2 separate regions of the Homo sapiens genome follow, and region 1 is linked to region 2. The links come from fine-mapping of genetic effects on gene expression. A gene starts in region 2. The other region holds a variant in brackets. All regions are shown on one strand. Distances are between the middles of the regions. Region 1 holds the start of LINC02828 (long intergenic non-protein coding RNA 2828). Region 2 holds the start of C6orf62 (chromosome 6 open reading frame 62).

Evidence for each region. PIP is the estimated chance that this variant, and not a neighbour inherited with it, causes the effect.
Region 1: its variant is fine-mapped to the expression of C6orf62 in whole blood (TOPMed, PIP above 0.99).

What each region holds. Positions count from the first base shown.
Region 1 is chr6:24,738,673-24,750,692 of GRCh38, reverse strand. LINC02828 (long intergenic non-protein coding RNA 2828) reads right to left here and starts at 8,388. Exons shown (of 3, transcript NR_183315.1): 1 at 8,347-8,388; 2 at 1,545-1,697. It also overlaps the pseudogene AP3S1P1. RefSeq lists an enhancer at 7,079-7,168. The variant A/G (reference allele first, on the strand shown) is at 6,797.
Region 2 is chr6:24,712,440-24,724,459 of GRCh38, reverse strand. It overlaps C6orf62 (chromosome 6 open reading frame 62), which reads left to right and starts at 5,306. Exons shown (of 5, transcript NM_030939.5): 1 at 5,306-5,920; 2 at 8,136-8,312; 3 at 10,020-10,142. The coding sequence starts at 5,792. RefSeq lists enhancers at 2,463-2,552, 2,603-2,652, 2,244-3,037, 2,783-3,532, 3,832-4,625 and a silencer at 4,093-4,262.

The DNA of each region.
Region 1 (12,020 bases), 26 kb before region 2:
AACCTGCCCTCTTTTAGATAAAAAATGTAAAAGACTATTTTCAGTAAAATCCAGGGGAAAAGGTCATCCAAGTTTACCTTGTAGTTGTTTACCAAAACTAAAGGAGAGTCTTAACTTTTGCTCTTGGATTTAAGTCAAGGTACTGTACAGAAGTTATATAAAATCGGTATGTGAAGTTCAATGTACCTTTTCTTGTTCAGTGATTTTTAAAGAAATCAGATAGTTCCAGTGTGATTTGTTTTCTTTTCTAAACTTCTATGCTCACCAAAGTCATTCCCTATATATTGGCTACTATGATATTTTGAAAAGTGTTTGTGATATTTCGTTATGTATCACCCAAAACATTGGTATTTTGTATGGATTACAAGTGCAGCATTCCTTAAGTCTTTCTGCTATCTGTGACAATTGTCACTTAAAGAACTAAGTGTATATTGTGTGAAAATATTATGACTTATTTATTTATTTATTTGAGACAGAGTCTCACTCTGTCACCCAGGCTGGAGTGCCATGGCGCGATCTCAGCTCACTGCAACCACCACCTCCTGGGTTCAAGAGAGTCTCATGCCTCAGCCTCCCAAATAGCTGGGATTACAGGCATGCATCATCACGTCCAGCTAATTTTTGTATTTTTAGTAGAGACAGGGTTGGCCAGGCTGGTCTCGAACTCCTGACCTCAAGTGATCTGCCTACCTGGACCTCCTAAATTGCTAGGATTACAGGCATGAGCCACCACACCTGGCCATGACCTTTTTTCTTAGTTTAAATAAACTGCAATACAAAAATTCAAGTGAAACAATTTTTATAGGTCTATAACACAATATTATCTGCAGTCCATTAGATTAGGTATGGCTGTGAACATTTAATCATAACTTTTCAGTTGCAATTTTATGTTCACATTATATTTGGATACCTCTCAATATTTTTAAAAGAAAATTTTCAACCATATATGGCTGGTCCACAGATTTGTCACATCCCCTTTGTTTTGAAAATTTTCAAATGTATATGAAAATGGAAAGAATATTATTATGAAAGCCTGTATACTCTCTGCCTAGATTCAACAACTGTCATCATCTTGACAAATTTATTTAACGCTCTGTATATCGTTTTTTAAAAACTGAACCATTTGAAAGTCATTATGACACTTGCTTCTTCTAGTTCCTCTCCCTCTTCCTGAGTTTTTAGTTTTGTTTTCCGACTTCCTATACATGGGTTCCTTTTTCTAGCAACCTTACATAGCCTTCTTAAAAAGGAGAGAAGTTCTCTTAACTTTATGTTCATCTCCAGCTACCACCATCTGTCTCTTTCTTTCTCACAGCCCACTTTCTCAAAGCAGAGTCCACACTGCTGTTTCTACTTCCTCCCTCTCAGTGGGCCTCACTGGACTGTGGTGTGCCATCCACACAACTTCACCTTGGCACCATCTGGAGCCTCACGACTGGGAAACTCAACAGAGGCCAGGCTCCTCTCTTTGGCATATTTCATACTGTTGAGCTCCATCTTGAAATCCGTTCCTCCTGCCAGGGCATCGTTCACTTCTGACTCACCTGCTTTTCCAGCTGTCCCTGCTCGGGACCCTTCGTCAACTCTCCTTTCTACTTGCCTCTTGAATCTGGGCATTCTAAATGGCCCCATCTCCATCCTTAGTCTCAAATCAAGAGCTTAACCATTTTGTCCCTTATTACCGGAATTTCACGTATCTGTAAGAAGATGGAGAGAAACTCTTTATGTGAGAGAACCCATGAGGATGTCTGCTTCATGAACTGCTTCATTTTGATCCTCCAGTTATAGTTCTTCCGGCTTTTGCAGTTTTAATAAAACCACACCCAGAGGCTATTCAGAAGAAGGAATGCAGGTAAAAGGCAAAAATGATCTTGCTTGTTAGTGACCTAGAGACAAGATTTGATGGAGAAAGAAGCAGAATATTGTCTTTTTTTTTTTTTTTTTTTTTTTTGAGACGGAGTCTCGTTCTGTCGCCAGGCTGGAGTGCAGTGGTGCGATCTTGGCTCACTGCAACCTCCAACTCCCGGCTTCAAGCAATTCTTCTGCCTCAGCCTCCTGAGTAGCTGGGATTACAGGCACGTGCCACCATGCCCGGCTAAGTTTTGTATTTTTAGTAGAGACGGGGTTTCACCATGTTGGCCAGGGTGGTCTCCATCTCTTGACCTCGTGATTCGCCCACCTCGGCCTCCCAAAGTGCTGAGATTACAGGCATGAGCCACTACACCCAGCCTGTTGTCTTTCTTTATTATGAAGTTGTAGGATGTTATTTATCCATGATAAAGTCCTATCTCCCCCATTTCTACAGCTAATTTAAAGTTGACTATTAGAAACCCTATTCACAGGTCAAATACAGACAACACACATTGATTTCTAGCCATAATGCTTCACAGAGCTAATTAGTCTGTTTTGCTTGCTTGAAAGATCTGTATCTAATTTTTTAAGCATCAAAAGAGAAAAGCATATTCAACTCCTTGTAATACCCAAATGGCAGGTGAACGTTCCCTTCAGGGAACATGTCGCTATTGAGAAAACAACATCTGCGTTAAGAATTAAGCCTAGGATGAGGAGTAGCGGACTTTGAGACTAAGAGAGAAGAAGAATCAGTAGGCAATGGCTTTTGTTGTTGCTCCTTTTTTTTTTTTTTAGACAGAGTCTTGCTCTGTTGCCCAGGCTTGAGTGCAGTGGTACGATCTTGGCTCACTGCAACCTCTGCCTCCATGGTTCAAGTGATTCTCCTACCTCAGCCTCCCGAGTAGCTGGGATTACAGGCACACACCACCATGCTCAGCTAATTTTGTATTTTTAGTAGAGACGGGGTTTCACTATGTTGTTCAGGCTGGTCTCGAACTCCTGACCTCAGGTGATTCACTTGCCTTGGCCTCCCAAAGAACTGGGATTACAGGCGTGAGCCACTGCACCTGGCCTATTGTTGTTGTCTCTACATGGAGTAAGAAAGTGGATACTTAAATCAGTAAAATGCAGAAAATTAATTAGCTTGTCAGATGAGCATTCATAAGCTTTTTCTTTCTTTTCTTTCTTTCCTTCCTTCCTTCCTTCCTCCCTCCCTCCCTCCCTTCTTTCTTTGTCTTTTCTTTTCTTTCTTTCTTTTTTTGAGACAGGATCTCACTCTGTCACCCAGGCTGGAGTGTTGTAGTGACACAGTCAAGGAGTCTTGAACTCCCAACCTTTAACTGCAGCCTTGAACTTCCAGGCTCAAGCAATCCTCCCACCTTAGCCTCTGGAGTAGCTGGGACTACAGATGTGTGCTTCCATACATGGCTAATTTTTTAAAATTTTTATTGTAGAGATGGGGGTCTTGCTATGTTGCCCAGGCTGCTTTTGAACTTCTGGCCTCAGGTGATCCTCACGCCTCAGCCTCCCAAAGTGCTAGTATTACAGATGTGAGCCACTGCCCCTGGTCACATAACCTACTCTTAATCTAATTTAGTTTAGAGACTAAACTAATTACTGATCTTTTATGCCTGCTTTATTATAAAATGGCAGCCCAGTTGTAACAACTTAACACTGATTTTATTATCAAAAGTCTAGTACAGGTGAAATACAAATGAAGACTAGAGTTTAGTTAATAGTATCGTGTCGATGTTGGTTTCCTATTTTGGCAGCTGTACCATAGAATGTAAAAATGTTAACATTGGGGGAAAGTGAGCGAGGGTTATATGGAAACTCTATAATATTTTTGCAACTTTTCTGTAAATGTAAAATTGTTCTAAAATAAAAAGGTTATTTTAAAAAAACAAGTCTAGCATGTGGCAATGATTATAACAATGGATGTCTGGATAACGACCTGCTCAGTGTTCTCCAGATAGTTACTATAGTCATTAAAGTTATACATAATAAAAAGCATAATGACAGTTTTGGCACATTCCAAGTAAAATCGGTGTTTTAAAAATCAGCTCAGGTTATCCGTTTAAACTAACAAACAACTGATAAAGCACAATCAGACCAAGAACAGTTCTCTAATATTTTGTAGACTATGTGGAAGTCCTGTCTTCCTTGAGGCTAAAATAAATCGGATGAGACCAGACTAAGAGAAAACAATCTTCTGCCAGTTTCTTTTGCATTTCTGGCTTATTCGGAAAGAAAGACAAAGAAGCTGAGTGGATCAGATGCTCAGGTGTTCCTTCTTTTTCATTCTGGTACCTGGATATGCCTGAGTTGGGGTAAATGGTAAGATCCCCAAATCCATGAGACAGGGCTCATTTAACAAATAATTTGGGGTCAGGCTTGGTGGTTCATGCCTGTAATCCCAACACTTTGGGAGGCTGAGGCAGGTGGATCACTTGAGGCCAGGAATGAGTTTGAAACCAGTCTGGTCAATATAGCGAGACCCCCATCTCTACAAAAGAAAAAAATTAGCCAGGCATAGTGGTGCATGCCATGCCTATAGTCCTAGCTACTCAGGACTTGAGCAATCCCCGAGTAGCTAGGACTTGCAAGAGGATTGCCTGAGCCCAGGAGTTCGAGGCTGCAGTGAGCTTGGATCATGCTACTACACTTCAGCCTGGGCAACAGAACGAGCCTTGTGTCAAAAAAACAAACAAACAAACAAACAAAAAACACCAAAATATTTTTGTAGAGCTCATTAAGGATCTTATATCTTCTCTGTAAACAAACAAACAAACAAACTAAAGAATCTCTGTCCATTATGATTCTCATTGATCTTACCTCAGCTTTTAACATTTAGTTTTATAGACCAGTCATTGGCAAACAATGACCCACAGGCCAAATCTGCCTCATCTTCTTTTTCATTACAGCCTGGGAGTTAAGAATGGTTTTTGGGCCGGGCGCTGTGGCTCATGCCTGTAGTCCCAGCACTTTAGGAGGCTGAGGCAGGCGGATCACTTGAGGTCAGGAGTTCAAGACCAGCCTGGCCAACATGGTGAAACCCCATCTCTACTACTAAAAATACAAAAATTAGCTGGGCGTGGCTGTGAATGCCTGTAGTCCCAGCTACTTTGGAGGCTGAGGCAGGAGAATTGTTTGAACCTGAGAGGCAGAGGTTGCAGTGAGCCAAGATAGAGCCACTGCACTCCAGCCTGGGCGACAGAGCAAGACACAACCAAGCTCACTTGCTCACGCATTGTCTATGACTGCTTTCCTGACACAATGGCAGAACTGAGTAGTAGTGACAGAGACTAGAGGGCCTGCAAAGTCTAATGTAATTACTATCTGACCCTTTACCAAAAAAGTTGGCCAATCCTATAAGGGACAACTTCCTACACACACACAGATCTCCCTCTTGGTTTTCAGAGCAACATTCTCATCTGGCTTTCTACTTTCTCAACTGGCACTCTGGGATTTAAGCGGTGATATGACGGGGTGGTCTGGTGAGGACTAGACTAGGAGTGTGGCTAATCAGGAGGCTGGTGGACACTAATAGAAAGGTAAGACGTCGAGTACCAGAAGAGCTCATTAATATACAATTAAAGAGGTGACGCAGGTCCTATAAGATGTGGGAGAAGGGAAGTTCCATTTTAAGAAGTGAGCTGAGGAATAGGAGACACGAGGCCTGTGTGGTCTAGGCAGACAGTCTAGAAGGTCAACGTCTGCAGGAACTGCATGAACAAGCAGGGTGAAACCAAAGCTGCAGTCTAATCTTAGGGCAAAAGTGATTTCCCCATTTTATACTGCTCTCTGGAATTGGACAGCCTTAGGTCCAAATCTACTTATGACATTCAGAAGGAAATAAAAAACCTGAGGTAACTCCACCTTCTCCACAGATTTAAATCCTGTGTTGGATGCTGAAGAAAAGCTACATATCTCTCCCCTACTAGACTTTCCTCAAAATTCAGTTCCACATAGTACTGAATACTTTATTTATTGATTTATTTAGAGATAGGTCTTGCTATGTTGCCCAAGCTGGACTCAAACTCCTGGGCTCAAATGATCCTCTTGCCCCAGCCTCCTGAGTAGCTGGGACTCTGTGCCAGCACACCTGGAGCTGATATTTTTCCTTTCATATCTCATGAAAATAACCTTGGGTTAGAAGCTTGTCCTTCCTTCATGACCAGGCCATACGTTTGGTTCCATTATCAAAGTGAAAGCCATCTCCTTTCCATCCTCCTAAGCAAGAAAATCTCCCTTATATGTCAGTAAAAGTACCAAGCACCTACATTCTTTCTAATTCTCGCCTGCTATCAAGAAAGTATAAAACGAACAATAGTGGGGAGAGAAAAGGTGACGAAGAGAGGGAGGTAGTTTAAGTTGTGCTGATTTCATTATTTTAATAGCCAGGGATGGAAATAAATCATCTAAAGATGATAAATCAAGTACGTGGCAAAAACCGCAATTACTTTTGCACCAACCTAATAGAATAAGTATATTTAGAAACGCAAAGATAAAGGCCAGGCGTGGTGGTTCACGCCTATAATCCTAGCACTTTGGGAGGCCTAAGTGGGTGGATCACTTGAGGCCAGGAGTTCAAGACCAGCCTGGCCAACATGGTGAAACCATGTCTCTACAAAAAAAAAAAAAAAAAAAAAAGCGAAGATAAATACTAAGAACAGCAGAAAAAGGGAAGTGATAGTGTGCTAATTTTGTCAGTGTTCATAGTATGGAGTCAACTGGTTTTGCTTGAAGAAAGAGGATTAGGTTTATTATATAAACTTGTAGTTATAAGGTAACCACTAGAACAAAAATTTATTTCCCTATAAACTATTAGGAAACACACACATGCAAACACAAAGAAAATACAGTCCAGTAGAGAAGTGTTCAAAAAGTAACAACAACAACAAAAACCCAGAAAATATCATACAAAATTTGATACAGAATTAAG[A/G]CCAAACTTATATGTATATGGGCTAAATTCACTGTGACAGACACTGTTGCTTACTCAACAGCCATTTCCCTGCTCCTGCCCCACTGCCTTATTTTGTCTGGGGAATGTACCCAGCCCTAGCAGATGAGTCATTATTAGCTAAGCCAGTCATAGCCATTCTGTGTCCTTCTGTCAGCCTTCCTTACATCTAAGAGTAGTCAGTTATATGGCAAAGAGATTTGAGGGGAAGTCTACTACAGGGCTACTGGGAAAGGTAATCTTTCGCCTGATAAGAGTAGCCCCAGAAGGATAAAGACTTTTACCCTGACTACCCTGTTTTCTGCCTTTGAACTGTGATGTTGGGAGCTGTGGCAGCCATTTTGAATTTATGAGTTAACAAGAATAAGGACTGGCAGAGCAGAAGGAAGGAGCCTAAGATCTGCTGACATTGTTGAGCTCCTGAATGAATGCCAGCTACCAAGTTGCAGCATGACTCATATCTTTACTTCCAACTTTCATTTCTTTCTTCAGGCTTATATTACTAAGAGGTCATGACTAATCTCACTTAACGAAGTATTCCTGTCAAAGCTTTTAGCCATTTGCCTTTGCAGACAGTTTAGACATTTTACTTGGAGCAGAGAATAGTTGATTTTGTGCTAAAAGTCTTCCTAGCAGAGACTCTTCCTGGCTTCAGATGATATCAATGACCTTAATGTTCAGCTTGTGGCATAGAATTCCAGAACTCTGGAAACAGCAATGCAACAACAGAAAATGATTCGGGAAAGAGCTTCTTTAAGGTCACACACATGGATTTCGTAAACGGCCCAGATTGTCTTTAGTTCTTTGTTATTTCTTTTGTTTTACAGATGCTTGAGCTTTTGTTAGTGAATAAGTATTACTATTGCTTGGTATCTTTTACCGAATTCGTATGAAATTCTTATGAATTTTTGCCTGTATGAAATTCATAATCTTACCAATGGGTTTTCTTTCTCTCCTCAAGCTTTCCTTCCATTCCCTTACTTCACATTCAATGAATTTCTTGTGTATGCCACTACCAAGTCTCAAGCTCCTACAATTATTCTAATTTCTACTTCTGTGTATTGGTACGCCATCTCTCCACCTTGCCTCCTCCCTCTCTGGGAGTCTTATCCCCCTCCTTTCTAAAATAAATTCATCTAAGGTGTTCCCAACCATCCTAGGCAAACCTTCAGAGGACTTCACTTCTACTTGGTCTTCCTTTATTCTCCCACTTCATTGGTTCCTTCCCCATTTACCTTCAACGCTACAACAGGTCTCCGTGGATAGTCATGCCCAGCCCCCAGCACACTTTCTGTGGGCTACCTAAGCTCTTAAATGGATGGTAAATGCCTTGGGGTTGCATTTGTTCTCTATCCACAATCTCATCTACTGCATACTTGGCAATGCGGTTTCCATCCTCCCAGCAACACTGAAACTGTTTTCTAAAAGGTCAACAAAGACCTCTTTTTAGTTAAATCCATTATTCTTTTCTGGTTTTTCTTTCTCTGTTTCTCTCTACAGCATTAAAAAGAAAAAAAAAAGATTTCTCATACCTCAAATGTTCGGCTTCCTTGGCTTCTGTCCTATTTGCTAGCAGTTCCTTCCCTTTTTATTGCCTTTTATTTCTCTTGCCATTCCTTTGCTACGTATTCCCTTGCTCCCTATTCTCTCTATCCTTTCACTCCAAAGTCACATTATCTTCCCTGTAGCCATTACCTCTGCGGTTAAAAAGGCCTGTTCTGTTTTCTTTTTCTTTTCTTTCTTTCTTTCTTTCTTTTCTTTTTTTTTTTTTTTTTTGAGATGGAGTCTTGCTCTGTTTCCCAGGCTGGAGTGCAGTGGCTCTGTCTCAGCTCACTGCAACCTCTGCCTCCCAGGTTCAAGCAATTCTCCTTCCTCAGCCTCCCGAGTAGCTGGAATTACAGGCATGTGCCACCATGCCTGGCTAATTTTTGTATTTTTAGTAGAGATGGGGTTTTACCATGTTGGCCAGGTGGTCTCGAACTCCTGACTGCAGGTAATCTGCCCTCCTTGGCCTTCCAAAGTGCTGGGATTACAGGCGTGAGCCGCCATATTTCACTGGGGCTGCAATTTTAAATTTTATTTTATGTATATATGTATTTATTTATTTATTTTAATTTTTTATTTTTTGAGACAGAGTCTCACACTGTAGCCCAGGCTGGAGGGCAGTGGTCAGATATCAGCTCACTGCAACCTCTGCCTCCCAGGCTCAAATGATCCTCCCACCTCAGTCTCCTGAGTAGCTGGGATTACAGGCGTGCACCACCACACCAAGCTAATTTTTTTGTATTTTTAGTAGAGATGGGGTTTTGCCATGTTGGCCAAGCTAGTCTTGAACTCCTGACCTAAAGTAATCTGCCTGCCTTGGCCTGCCAAAGTGCTGGGATTACAGCCATGAGCCACCATGCCTGGCCTTATTTACATATTTATTTTTGAGATGAGGTCTCAGTCTGTCACCCAGACTGGAGTGCAGTGCTGCTGTGATAGATAACTGTAGCCTGAAGCTCCTGGGCTCAAGCAATCCTTCTGCCTCAGCTTCCCAAGTAGCTGGGACTACAGATGCAAGCCACCATGCCCAGATAATTTATGAGTTTTTTGTAGAGATGGCATCTCACTATATTGCCCAGGCTGGTCTTGAACTCCTGGGTTCAGGCAAACCTCCCATGGCTGGGCTCTAGGCTTGGCTTTCCAAAGTGCTGGGGTTATAGGCATGAACCACTATGCCTGGCTGGTGCTGCAATTCAAAATCACCTCCCTTCTCAAACTAGCTCCCTTTCCCACTTTCCTGCCTGTGGTCATGGCATGGTCACTTTCTTAGTCACTGTCTTAGTCTGCTCAGGCTGCCATAACAAAACACCACAGACTGGATAGCTAAAACAACAGAAATTTATTTTCTCACAGTTCTCTGGGTCAGAAGTCCAAGATCAAGATTCTGGCAGGTTTGGTTTCTCCTGAACTCTCTCTCCTTGGCTTGCAGATGGCCATCTTCTTGGTGGGTCCTCACATGGCTTTTATTTTATTTTATTTTTTGCACCAGAGGCAGGGTCTCATTCTGCTGCCTCAGACTCCCGAGCTCAAGCAATGCTCCTGCTTTAGCTTCTCAAGTTGTTGGGATTACAGGCATGCACCACTGTACCCAGCAATGGCCTTTCTTTTGTGCATGTATTTCTGGTTTCTCTCCCTTTTCTTATAAGGACATTAATCATATTGGATTGGAGACCACTCTAATAACTTTTTCACCTCTCTAATAATTTTTTAACCTTAATCATCTCTTTAAAGGTCTTATCTCTAAATACAGGCACATTCTGAAGCATACTAGGGATTAGGATTTCAATATATGAATTTTGGGGAGGCACAATTCAGTCCGTAACAGTTACTCGCACCAAAACTTGGGTGTCCTCTTCACTTACCTCTATCATTTTCTATCCAGATATTTTACTTTCTAGATTTTTTCTATTAAGTGTTTAAATTCATCCTTTTATCACCATTGCCAGTGCCATTTTCAGGCCTTAATCAACTCTAAATTTCCATGCCTGGTCTTTTATAAGGCCCTCTGTAATCTGACCCATCTTGTCTTTTCTTTTAGTATGTTTATCATGTACATTGTAGAAAATATAACACTAAATTTTTGTGTCTGGCTACTTTCACTCAATAAAAAAGCAACAGTCCTCTTCCCTACCCAGACCCATTTCCCAGATGCAGCCTTCATATAGTTGAAAATTCAAAAGGTACCAAAGTCTACACTGTGAAAAATCTCCCTCCCACAGGCAACCAACGTTATTAGTTTATTGTATATCCTGATCTTATAGCTAGTTTGTACCCATGGGTACGTCTACTCATTTTCCCACAAATGGCAGTGTATTAGCCTGTTCTCATACTGTTATGATGAAATATTCACAATTGGGTAATTTATAAAGAAAAAGAGGTTTAATGGACACACAGTTCCATATGGCTGGGGAGGCCTCACAATCATGGCAGAAGGTGAAGGAGGAGCAAAGGTACATCTTAAATGGTGGCAGGCAAGGGCAGGTATGCAGGGGAACTGCCCTTTATAAAACCATCAGATCTTGTGAGATTTATTCACTATCATGAGAACAACATGGAAAAAACCCACCCCCATGATTCAATTACTGCCCACCGGGTCCCTCCCATGACACAAGGGGATTATGGGAGCTACAATTTGAGATGAGATTTGGGTGGGGACACAGCCAAACCATATAAGGCATCATACTGTAGACACTGCTTTACCTATACAAATTGCAATTTTCATTTAATATAACAAAAATAGCAAGCAGTTCTCAAGCACTTTCTATTTTTCTATTAGTATTCTGAATGCTTTGCATGTTTTAACTCATTTAATCCTTGAGATAACCTCCTGGAGTAAGAGCTATTATAATCCCCATTTTACAAATGAGAAAACTGAGACACAAAGCCTAGGATTGGCAGAACTAGATTTGAACCCAGCAGGCAAGCCCTCAGAGCTCAGTACTTAACCATGATAGCATGTTACTATGTCTTAGGGATTGTTCTATATCTGGACATAAAGAATGTTTGCATCCTTTTTAAGCTTTTCTTTTATTGGAGTTGAAACATATGCTCAGGAAGGTGCACAAACCATATGTACAGATGAAGGAATCATTAGAGAGTGAAGATACCTGTATAATCACCACCTAGCTCAAGAAACCAGAACCCCAGAAGCACCCTCTCCTCTCATGTGCTCCTAATTAAAGCTTACAGCGATTATAAAATATAGTCCCCAAATACTACTTTGACACCATTCCTCACATCGAGAAATAATGTCTCTATCTCCTGCCCTTGAATCAAGATTGACAGCTTAACCCATAGAGTACTGCAGAAGTGATACTGTGCCAGTTTTCAGGCCAGGCCTTAAGAAACTGGCAGCTTTCTCTTCCTGTTTCTTGGGATGTTTGCTCTTGGAATCCAGCCACCATGATAAAGAAAAACCATGCAGCTACATGAGAGGACAAGTGTAGGTATTCTGGCCAACAGTCCCTGAGGTCCCAGCAAACAGTCGGCATTAACTGCCAGACATGTAAGTGGGTAAGACTCCCAGTGATTTCACCTCCAAGTCTCAAGTCCCCAACAACACCCGCCCTCACTGCCCCCAGCCTTTGAACTGTCCAAGCTTATGCTGTTGAGGCAGAGATGAGCTGTCCCCTCCAAGCCCTGCCGAAATTGCAGACTTGTT
Region 2 (12,020 bases):
GCTAAATCTTAAGTGAATGCTCTCTGACTTTTATCTGAATTTCATTGAGAAACGTTTGGTCACGGCTTTTAAAAATTTTAATTCCTTCGACTACCTTCTTATTTTATAGCCCTTTCAAGTTACAGAGAAAATTGAGCTAGCAGTGTTTTCGTCCTCCAGGGGACATTGCTGCTATTTCTTGGCTCATCTCATTAAGACCTAGCACAGTCCCATAACACAGTTTCATAGGATGTGCTCAGCTGTGACCAGGTGTCTCCAATTCTGTTTCACAGTAGCTGAAACTAAAAACTTCATTTTTTCCTCAACATCTGCTCCATACTGTTTTTTTCAGGATTATTATAGTAGTGAAAAAATTCTTCAATGGTGTATTAGATAAAACAACAAAAGCACAAGGGACAAATGAAAAACATAGATAAGTTGGACTTTATTAAAATTAAAGACTTCCGTGCTGCGAAGGATATCACCAAGAAAGTGAAAGGACAGCCCACAGAATAGGGGAGCGTATTTGTAAAGTATATATTTGACAGGGAACTTGTATCTAGAATAAAAAACTTCTACACCTTAATAATTAAAAAAACAATTTTTTAAATTAAAAATGGGTAAAAGGCCGAGCTTGGTGGCTCACACCTGTAATCCCAACACTTTGGGAGGCCGAGGTGGGTGGATCACTTGAGGTCAGGAGTCTGAGACGAGCCTGGCCAACATGGTGAAACTCCGTCTCTACTAAAAATACAAAAATCATCCGGGCATGGTGGTGGGGGCCTGTGGGCCCAGCTACTCGGGGCTGAGGCAGAAGAACTGCTTGAACCCAGGAAGCGGAGGTTGCAGTGAGCTGAGATAATGCCACTGCACTTCAGCCTGGGCAACATAGCGAGACTCTGTCTCAAAAAATAAATAAATAAACAAGTAGATAAATAAAAATGGGCAAAAGTTCTGAATAGACATTTCTCCAAAGAAGATATTAGAACAGCCAATAAGCACATGAAAAGATGCTCAACATCATTAATCGTTGGGGAAAGGAAAATCAAAACCACCATGACATACATCATACCCACTAGGATGGTTATACTAAAAAAGACATAATAACAAGAATGTGGAGAAATTGGAATACACTGCTGGAGGAAATGTAAAATGATGCAACAGACTTGGAAAACATCTGGCAGTTTCTCACATGGTTAAAGATAGAGTTAACATATATCCCAGTAATTCCACTCTTAAGTATATGCCCAAGAGAATTAAAAACATACGTCTATACAAAAGCTTTTAAGTAAATGTTCATAGCAGCATTATTTATAACAGCCAAAAGGCAGAGACAACTCAAATGTCCATCAACTGATGAATGAATATAGAATTTCATACAATACATATTATTCCACAATAAAAAGGAATTAAGTACTGATACATGCTACAACATGGATGAACCTTGAAAACATTATGCTAAGTGAAGAAGCCAGTCACAAAAGACCACATATTAAATGATTTCATTTATATGAAATTTCAGAAACGGCAAATCTATAGACAGAACATAAACTAGAAAGAAGAGAAGTGACTGCTAATAGGTACAGGGTTTCTTTTTGGGGTAATGTAATGGCTGCACAACACTGAATATATTAAAAACCATTGGATTGTACACTTCAAGTAGATAAATACGGTATGTGAATTATATTTCAATAAAGCTGTTATTTTAAAAATTCTTCCATGAAGTTGATCATGGATACAAGTCAAGGCCAGGTCAAGAACATATAAGCCGGCTGGGAATGGTGGCTCATGCCTGTAATCCCAACACTTTGGGAGGTTGAGGCAGGCGGATCACCTGAAGATCATACTGGCTTGTATGTCTCATATGTTTGTTTGTTTTTTTTTTTTTTTCCGACGGAGTCTCACTCTGTTGCCCAGGCTGGAGTGCAATGGTGCGATCTCGGCTCACTGCAATCTCCGCCTCCCGGGTTCAAGCGATTCTCCTGCCTCAGCCTCTCGAGTAGCTGGGACTGCAGGCGCCTGCCACCAAGCCAGGCTGATTTTAGTATTTTCAGTAGAGACGAGGTTTCACCATGTTGGCCAGGCTGGTCTCGAACTCCTGACCTTAGGTGATCCGCCTGCCTCGGTCTCCCAAAGTGCTGGCATTACAGGCGTGAGCCACCATGCTCGGCTTACTTTTAAAAATCTTTCTTTTTTAAACCAATGCTCTAAACTACGTGACATTTTCTGTTTTATCTCTGTGAGCTTTCCATAGTTACATGATTTTGAAAACAAATCAGCAAAGCACTAGCAAAATGCAAGCTGTATCTTCCGAGATTAGAAGTTATTTGGAAATCTCAGGACTCATCCTTTGGTTCTGGACAATTTATATTGAAGGGTGGGTACCAGTTATTCTTTTGGCTCATGGCTGAAATAATGTTATTACAGCTGATCTGTTTTGACTTCACGAAGTGAAAAGTAGTAATTGGGGTCCCAATGGACTTCTAAAATCTCAGAGTAGCCAATGAGTATATAAGCATTGCTTATGTGGAGTATTGACCTTTGCTAAGTACTTACATAACTGTGTTTTAAAGAGCACATTAGAGCTTTGAAAAATGGACTCAACGCTTTTTGGTGCCAAGGACGTGCGACTCGGCGGCAAACGTTTCGATGAAGACAGTGAACCACCTAAGGGGCAGGCTGTAGGTCTGAGGTCTTGGGGGATTCTAACAGAAAGTGTGTTCTGACAGCAGTGGGTAAAAATCCACGAGTCAGACTGGGCTGCTCCTCTCCTAAGCCACAGCAGCAACGTCTGAACAACGTCTTTGACCTTGTTCGAAGCTTGAGGACCGCCCTCCCTGCCTGCGCACGTGGCGGGGTGGGGACAGAGGCAAGTAGCACTAACATGAGACATCTGCTCCCGCACGCCGTTTAAATTCCAGGTGTCGAATTGAGTTCTAGGTTTGTTGCCGCAGGATACCGCGGGGCCGACCCCCAGGACTAACTAATTATAAGAATCGAAATAAGAATCTTCCAATCTCCAACACACACTTTCCTTTTCCTTCTTTGCTCCGCCCCTACCCTCGCCCACTCTCCGCCGACTTCCGCAGTTTTGGCCCGCCCAGGTCGCTAGTTCGGCTCTGTCACGCGCCCAGCCTGACTCTGAGAGGCTGACGAGACTCGGGAAGTGCGACTCCATCCGGGTGTTTTGTTGAGGATGGTTGAGGGCGTGCTTTTATGACGACATCGGGGCGGGGCGAAGAGCCAACTCAGGAGACTGGGACTTCCTGAAGAAGGGGGGCGGAAGGAGTGGCGGGGAGCCCCCCCCTTTCCACGCCCCTTGGATACTCCATACTGGAGGAGAGAGGAGTCTCAACTCTCAAACTCCCCTTTTGAGGGGCGATTACTGAAATGGAGAGGTTAAATTCAAAGGCTCCACTTTTAAAAGACCTGTCCCTATTCCGTACTCTTGATCTGTTTTCCTCTTTTTCGGTAACCTTGAAAACTTTCCCACCTCCAATCCTTTCTCCCCCTTTGATTCTGCGCAAATGGTGGGGTCCCGCAGGGCGCGCAGTCGCAGTCACACCGGGGCGGTGCCGGTGAGAGGCGGGTGACGCAGCGGCCGTCGCTGCCATTTTAAGTTGTTTGTTCTCGCTTCTTTTCTCAAACGCGACTCTGCCCCGGACCCGCGAGGCGCCCGAGGCCTTCGCCGCTTCTGCAGCCACCGGCGGGGGGGGGAACGAGGCAGTACTGCCGCGGACGCTCACCAACCGCTTCGGCTTTTCCCCCCTCCGGGTCTCCTCGACCTTTCCTGAGAGCCGGAATCCGACTGTAGGGGGAAGAAAGACTCAAGAGCAGATGCTTGAACTGAAATAACTTTATTTTGGGGGGTTACTTTGCTGACCCTTAGCGCAGGGCTTCCTTTCCCTTCCCCCTCCGCCGCCAGTACCAATCCAACTCCCCATCTTTCTCTTTGTTTTTCCTCTTTTTCTTTTTCTCTCCCTGTTGCCGCTGTCTCCGCGTCCTTCCCCTCCGTTGCCGCCCAGGGCGCCGAGCCAGACTATGGGTCCCAGGTGGGGGCTGAGCGGCGGCAGCAGCGCGGGCGGTCCAGTCACGGTGCGCACTGCAGCGGGGATGGAGGGGCTCAGTTGGCTGGTGGTTTTCTCTTGACATGGCTCCTGCCCGTGCTACCAGCAGCGCCCCCGCCGCCGCCGCCTCTTCCGCCGCCGCCACCGCTCCGCCCGCAGGCTGCGGCTAGAGGGCCCAAACCCCGCCCTAGAGTCGGTCCGTGAGTCCCGGGCTCCGCGGGGACAGGGAGGGGATTTCCCCGTCACCCACCCCGCCCTAGCTGCCTCAATTCCACCCCCTGCCCCTCGGGAAACAACTAACGACCCCACCCTAAACAATCCAAACTCTGGAAACATGGTCTGTTCAACGTGAGAGAGAGCTAATCCGGGAACTTAATTTTTTGGGGGGAGGGTGGGTGGGCTTACTTTAGAAGTAATATTAACACAATTATTTTCTTTTTTTCCCCCACTGAACCTTCCCATTTACCCTCTCCCGCCCACTCCACCCGGGCGGGAATTGTTTCCACGATGAAATGAGTGAAAACCTGAGTGATCCTGTGTCTCCCGTGGTGCGAGTGAGTCGCTGCCGCTGAAGGCAAGGGGTGGGGGTGGGACCTGCGGGGGTGGAAGGCAGGTGGTCTCCGGGCACCGCCTGGGATTTGGGAGAAGAACCCGCCACCTTTGCCTCGGCAATGCTCACAAGAAGATAAATCGCACTCCCCACCATTTTGAACGGGGGCAGATCCACAGGGAAGTCTCCCTTGGGGAATGTAGGACTAGTTGCAGGCTGGGGGTGTTGGGAACCCGGGCATTAATCAGGTCTAACCACAGAGCCGGAATAATTAATACCGTATTATATACCCCTTTTCCTTCTGCCGTCATGATTCTCCTTGGCAGCAGCGTTAGCAGCCGCCTGAGGGTGAAAATGTGGGTGATGGGGAAGTTGGTAATGACTCCGCTGTTTTTTCTCATGGCTCCTTTGGGCCACAGCTGCCCGCCCCCGGTATACACTGTAGTTGATTGCAGGGAAACCCTGTACCTCTCCCTTTCCTTCTCTACCGATTTTGCACTTTTCTCTATGCTCACCACCAAGTGTAATCAATAACAAGCACTGACAATACATAGCAATAGTGAAATCTGAAATAACTAAGAATTAGGTACTACAGCCATGGAGCTGGCTGGGTAAAATCTAATTGGATATTTCAGTTTCATTCACCTACCCTGTTTTGGTGTTTGGTTTTGGTTTTGGTTTTGGTGAGTTTTTTTTTTTTTTTTTTTTGGAAAGCAAGGATCACACTTCCCCCTCCCTGTTCCTTAATCCCTTTTCTAAAAAGGGGGGAAAATCCGGATGGATTTTAGGGATTGGTCTGGTGTCAGCTGTGTTTTATTGCACACCTAAATCCTGATTATAGGCTTTTCATTTCTCCGCAAAGCCTTTATTTTGGCAGTTAAGCCAAATGTGTTTTCCAGAAAGTTAGTTATTTTCTCCTCTTTCTTTCCTTTCTTTCCTCCCTTTTTCCCGTCTGACCCCAAACGTTATTGTCCAAACATGACTGGACAGCAGCTTTTGTTTCTTGACCCTGTAATATGACAGTCTGCTAATATTGACAGAAGGTGCAGTTTTTGGGTTATAGTCGTGATTTTCGCTAATCAATCATATTAGCAGGAAAAAAAATGACTTGTTTCTGTTGTACTTGAGTCTTAAGAAAAAGTGCCCATAGTTTAGTGACAATTTCCAAAGGCTTTAGTACCACCTGTATTTCAAAATGGGGGACCCAAACTCCCGGAAGAAACAAGCTCTGAACAGACTACGTGCTCAGCTTAGAAAGAAAAAAGAATCTCTAGCTGACCAGTTTGACTTCAAGATGTATATTGCCTTTGTATTCAAGGAGAAGGTAATTTAAAGTTCTTAATGGTGAATTAGCACAAGTAATTTTTGTAAGTGTATATTATTTGTTACTCTTAAATTATTATGAATATTAGGTTAAAGAGTGGTTGAAAAAAAGTCTGCTTTGTATGCTCTGTTTTTTCACCCTTAGGGGTGATTCTGTGAATTGAGCAGTTGCAGCATGCGAAAAGACCCTTGAGCGTTCTTTGGTTTGGAAATAAATTTGAGTCTGAAGCTTAGTAGTAGTATACACTGAGTTGACATGGGGTGGGCAAGATTACAAAATTTTATATGGAGTTAACATGGGAAACCTTATGATGGAATTTAAAGATTATCTAATGTAGAGTATAAATAAGATGGTTGAAAGTGTGAAATTGTAATCAGACTGTTTATATGCTAAAGTTTATCCTGTTTCTTAAACTGCGTAATGTAGGTAACCTTTTCTCTTACATTTAATGAAGTAGAATACACCTTTTAGGAGCAATTAAATACTGAAATGGTTAATTTGTGTTTAGAAGTGTGATTTTCTTTTTTACTTAGAGTTCATTTTGCCTTGTATAGAAGTACAGTTTTTAAAAACTCAAAATGACCTAGAGGAAGTTTCATTTTTAGGGGCGGTGGAGGTCTTAATCAGAATTAGTTCCGCAGTTAAATAGCAAACAGTAAGTTGTGAGTAGTCAAGGATGGGATGATAAGAGCAGTATTTTTTGCAACTTAAAATGAACATTTTCTTAAATTATCAGCAAGGCTTATTTGACCAAAGATGAGGTTATGAATGTAAGGAAGTGCTACTTGGATTTTGGTGCTTAAATTGTTAGCTAATTTCAGATCAGAAATACAATCTTAGTGTGGTATCTATTAAGTATCTGGAAGTTTTCCAGGTTTCCCCCTACTGTTTAACTCTTATTATTTTTGTTGCTGAGACAGGCCTCACTGTATTGCCCAGGCTAGTCTTGAACTCCTGGGCTAAAGTGATCCTCCTGTCATGGCATTTTAAAGTGCTGGGATTACAGGCAGGAGCTGCCACGCACAGCCCCAACTCTTAACTCCTAAAAGGTTATTTGTATTTAAGAACATTCTTAGCTGCTGAAGTATAGCATTGTGAAGTGATTTTTAAGTAATTTTTGAAGTGACTGTCCCAAGATTGGGTGGTATCAAGGACTTACATCTCCACTTTTGTTTTGTTGACAAGCTGACTCAAAATTGATGAGATTGGATTTTAGTTGAAGATGATACAGTGTATGCTCTTTAAATAAATCCAAGATAATAAGTAGTGAGACCATATCTTTGTATTTAATCTATATATTGCCCCAAATTGCACCATCTTAATTCTTTAACACCAACGATAATCTGGTTTTATTCTGTGAATGGACAGTGTCCATGCAGTTGCCCTGAATAATTCATGATATATACTTAATAGTACAGAATTTTAAAAAGTAGTTTAGTGATGCGTACTTGGTCTTGAGTAGTATTAAAAGAGAACTTGGTGTGCTTCTTTTTAGTCTTTCAAATATTGATGGTTTTGGCTGGGTGCAGTGGCTCACGGCTGTAATCCCAGCACTTTGGGAGGCTGAGGCAGGCGGATCACTTGAGGTCAGGAGTTCAAGGCCAGCCTGGCCAAATGGTGAAACCCTGTCTCTACTGAAAATACAAAAATTAGCCAGGTGTGGTGGCGCAGGCCTGTAATCCCAGCTACTCGAGAGGCTGAGGCAGGAGATCCCCTCGAACCCAGGAGGCAGAGGTTGCAAGTGAGCCAAGATGGTGCCACTGCCCTCTAGCCTGGGCAACACAGTGAGACTCCATCTCAAAAAAAAAAAAGAAAAACCAGAAATATTGATGGTTTTGATAATGTAATATTGAGAAAGTAATGGAAATTGGCCCATATAAGGAATAAAACTATTCATTTGTCTGAATAGCGTTGTTTTAAAACTGGTGAGATTTTTAATTTTAAGAAGTATTGTCCAAAATAGTGCTATGGATACCATTATGCTATAAAACTCAAGCATTAAACATTCTAATGACAGTTTGTACATGTATGGTTGGAGGGGGAGGTAGGGGAAGAACAGAAGGAATTACCTATCTGAAAATGTGTTTTCAGTGTATAAGTTACTGCAGACAGTTAAGAATTTTGTGGAGTTAATGTTACATGACATTGTAATATGAACTGAGTGTTAAAAGGCTGTGCTCCCTGTGGGTTAATACACCATTTTCTTTTCTTCTAGAAGAAAAAGTCAGCACTTTTTGAAGTGTCTGAGGTTATACCAGTCATGACAAATAATTATGAAGAAAATATCCTGAAAGGTGTGCGAGATTCCAGCTATTCCTTGGAAAGTTCCCTAGAGCTTTTACAGAAGGATGTGGTACAGCTCCATGCTCCTCGATATCAGTCTATGAGAAGGGTAAGTTCTGCCTTAAGTCTTGACTTGATAAAGTTTCTGTGGATTAACCTTGCATTTCCCCGCCCCCCGAACCCCCCTTAAAGTGGATAGTTATGATAGTGACCAGTCTCTTCAGGTAAATTTGTCTTTGTGCCATGTTGATAACTGGGATCATGACTTTAAAGCATTGTGTTTATAGGATTAGAAAAACACGTTTTTTTACGCCAGACCATTCTTATGTGGATGAAGTATATAAAGGGATTTCTTTAATCTGTGTTAGGTGTTGATGATCTCGGACTTTTTTTTTTTTTTTTTTTTTTGAGACAAAGTCTTGCTCTTTCGCTGAGGCTAGAGTGCAGTGGCATGATCTTGGCTCACTGCAACCTCTGCCCTCGCGCATTCAAATGATTCTCCTGCCTTAGCCTCCCGAGTAGCTGGGACTACAGTTGTGCGCCACCATGCCTGGCTAATTTTTTGTGTTTTTAGTAGAGATGGGGTTTTGCCATGTTGGCTAGGCTGGTCTGGAACTCCTGACCTCAAGTGATCCTCCTGCCTTGGCCTCCCAAAGTGCTGAGATTACAGGTGTGAGCCACTGCACCCTGCCAGTAGCCAACTGTTTTTAATAATTTAAGTGTTATGCAGAAAGTTTAAAAATTTTTGAAGTAGGTTTGTTTTTGAAAACTTGACCTTGAGTAAAACATGGACAACTTTGTTGTATTAGGCTCATAATATTGTGTATTATTATTGTGGATAAATGTCTTATGTCTCCGTTTATTGTATTTCCTTTTTTGGGGGGAATATGAATATAAGGAAGTGCTTCCAGCTTTGTAAACTTCTGCAACATGTTAAAAGTTAATCTGGGCATACCTGAACCAAGAGATCCCCACAGTTACTTGGGGAGAATGCTGGAGATAACCAGATACTGGTCTGGAAGAAATTATGGACCTTCAAAAATTAATATGCTGGCTACAATAATGAAGCAGAAGTCAGGAATGGAGAAAAGTAGTTTTCTATCAAAATAAAAATAGCATTTCAGCTATAATAGGATAGTGATTCATATTAGGAGTTCTAAGACATCTTTTTAAATAGATTGATTTTTAAAGGTGGAAATAAAGGTTCAGGGTCTGACAATACAACAGATATCAGAGATTTTGTTGGAGTTTTCACCATGCACTGATAAGTCTAGGTCTTGGTGTTAGGAGCATTGGACTGAGTGTATGTGACTCTCTGTAAGATAAAAATTAAAATTAGAGCCAGGCACAGTGACTTAGCCTGTAATCCCAGCACTTCGGGAGGCTGAGGTGGGTGGATCACCTGAGGTCAGGAGTTCGAGACCAGCCTGGCTGACGTGGTGAAACCCCGTCTCTATTAAAAATACAAAAAATATTAGCGGGGCATGGTGGCACACACTTGTAATCCCAGCCATTCGGGAGGCTAAGTCACGAGAATCGCTTGAACCTGGTAGGCGGAATTTGCAGTAAGCGGAGATTGCACCATTGCACTCCAGTGTGGGCCACAGAGAGGGACTCTGTCTCCAAAAATAAAAAATTACATCATGAGCTATTCAGATTATAAACTATTATGTTTACTTCCTAAGATATAAAATGATATATGGTAGATCTTTTGTACTTATAAAATGTTTTTATAGGGGAACCCTATAATTTGTGACATGGCTTGATGTAGCTGTTTCTTTAAAAGTAAACTTTTTTTTTTTTAATCATTTTATAGGATGTAATTGGCTGTACTCAGGAGATGGATTTCATTCTTTGGCCTCGGAATGATATTGAAAAAATCGTCTGTCTCCTGTTTTCTAGGTGGAAAGAATCTGATGAGCCTTTTAGGCCTGTTCAGGTATTTTGGTCTAAAGTGTGATGAGTATTTCAATATGTGAAAACTACTAGAATATAATAGGGTCTAACTTGAGAAATTCTTTGGGAAAATGGTTTCTGATAGTTTTATTTCACGAGTCTCCCCTATTTAGAATATTGTGATGCAAGAGAAGAAAGCGTTTGGATTATAGAATCTCTTGACAGTGTGGTGGTTCCACCTGCCCAGTGTGGCTTTGAAATTATGACTAGAGAAAATCTTTTAAAGTGGACATTTACTGATTTATAGAGGGGCCCACAGATGAGCTTCTGAGATCTGTAACTCTTGAAGCCTTCACCACACATCCTTCTAAAACCGTATATTTAACTGCTGCTTCCCAAAGGAATGTGATCTGAAATGGGTGAAGAAATCATTTTGTAGAAGTTGATCTGTATATAAAATTATAGAAGAAAGAAGTAAATTTAGTAGTCATTCTTAACCTTAAAATCTTGCTGACTTTTGACTGTTTGTCATGGTATACTAGACATTGCTCAAGTGAATCCCCCCTCTAGTGTTAAGGGCATTTACTCATGTTGAACCTAGTTTTATTTACAGTATATTTGTATGCATAGAAGATGGAGGTCCACCAAAGTGTTAATTATGCTTAGTTGTAGGTCAGGTATAGCTAACTTTCCTTTTTTAATATATATATTTACATTTGTGTTTCCTTTATAATTTATGGCATAGATTGCCACGATTTTCTTAAGTATACTTTTATAATCAGAAAAATGATATTAAGGACTCATTTTAAGTACACTAAATCAAATATTAGAAGGCTTCTTTATTTTAAGCTAATTGTGAGGATTATTTGTCATTTAAAACTTTTGCTTCTACTTATTACCCTGAAGTATCTTTGTGGTGCTTATGTTTTTCACAGACTGTATAAATTGATATACTCTCCCGCCCCATGGTAATGTTGCTACACATAAGCTCTAATAATTATCATTTTTAATGTTTTAAGATTAATTCAACTAAGTTTTAAAAATAATCCATTGGTTACATACATAAGAAAGTACTGTATACAGATTCCCCTGACTTATAATGGTTCGACTTAAGATTTTTTCAACTTTACCATGATGTGAAAGCCATATGAATTCATTGTGCTCCTCGATTTATGATGGGACTACATCCAGGTGAAGTCATTGTAAATTGGAATTGTTGTAAGTTCAAAAGTCACTTTTTGATTTAAAATACGTGTAACTTACACTGGGTTTATCAGGATGTAACATCACAAGTCGTGGAGCATCTGTATTTCGGTCATTTAATGGATGATATCTGACTGAAGGGAGAAAATGAATATAAAAGGCATGAAAACAGGAATAGAAAAGGCATGTTTAAAGTTCTCAGCGCAGGGCTGATAACTCTAGCTGCTCTCTGGAGGTGGTGTTAGGATTTTGTTGTTTTTTAGTTAAGGATTTCCCACTGGAAAAATGTAGGTCTGCTTATTACAGTATGTTTTCAAATTTCTAATACCCTGCCTTTCCCACTGGGACCTTATTTGAAATAGTTGAGTTAACTTTAGTCTTGTGTCAAATAGTACTCTTTGAAGTCATGGCTGATGTTTATTGAGAGTTGACTGTACTAGTTTCAGCTTTTTTTTTTTTTTTTTTTTGAGACAGAGTCTCACTCTGTTGCCAGATTGGAGTGCAGTAGTGTGATCTTGGCTCACTGCAACCTCCTCCTCCTTGCAACCTCTGCCTCCGCCTCCCTGGTTCAAATGATTCTCCTGCCTTAGCCTCCCGAGTAGCTGGGTCTACAGGGACATGCCACCACGCCCAGCTAATTTTTGTATTTTTAGTAGAGACGGGTTTTCACCATGTTGGCCGGGATGGTCTCGATCTCTTGACCTCGTGATTCACCCGC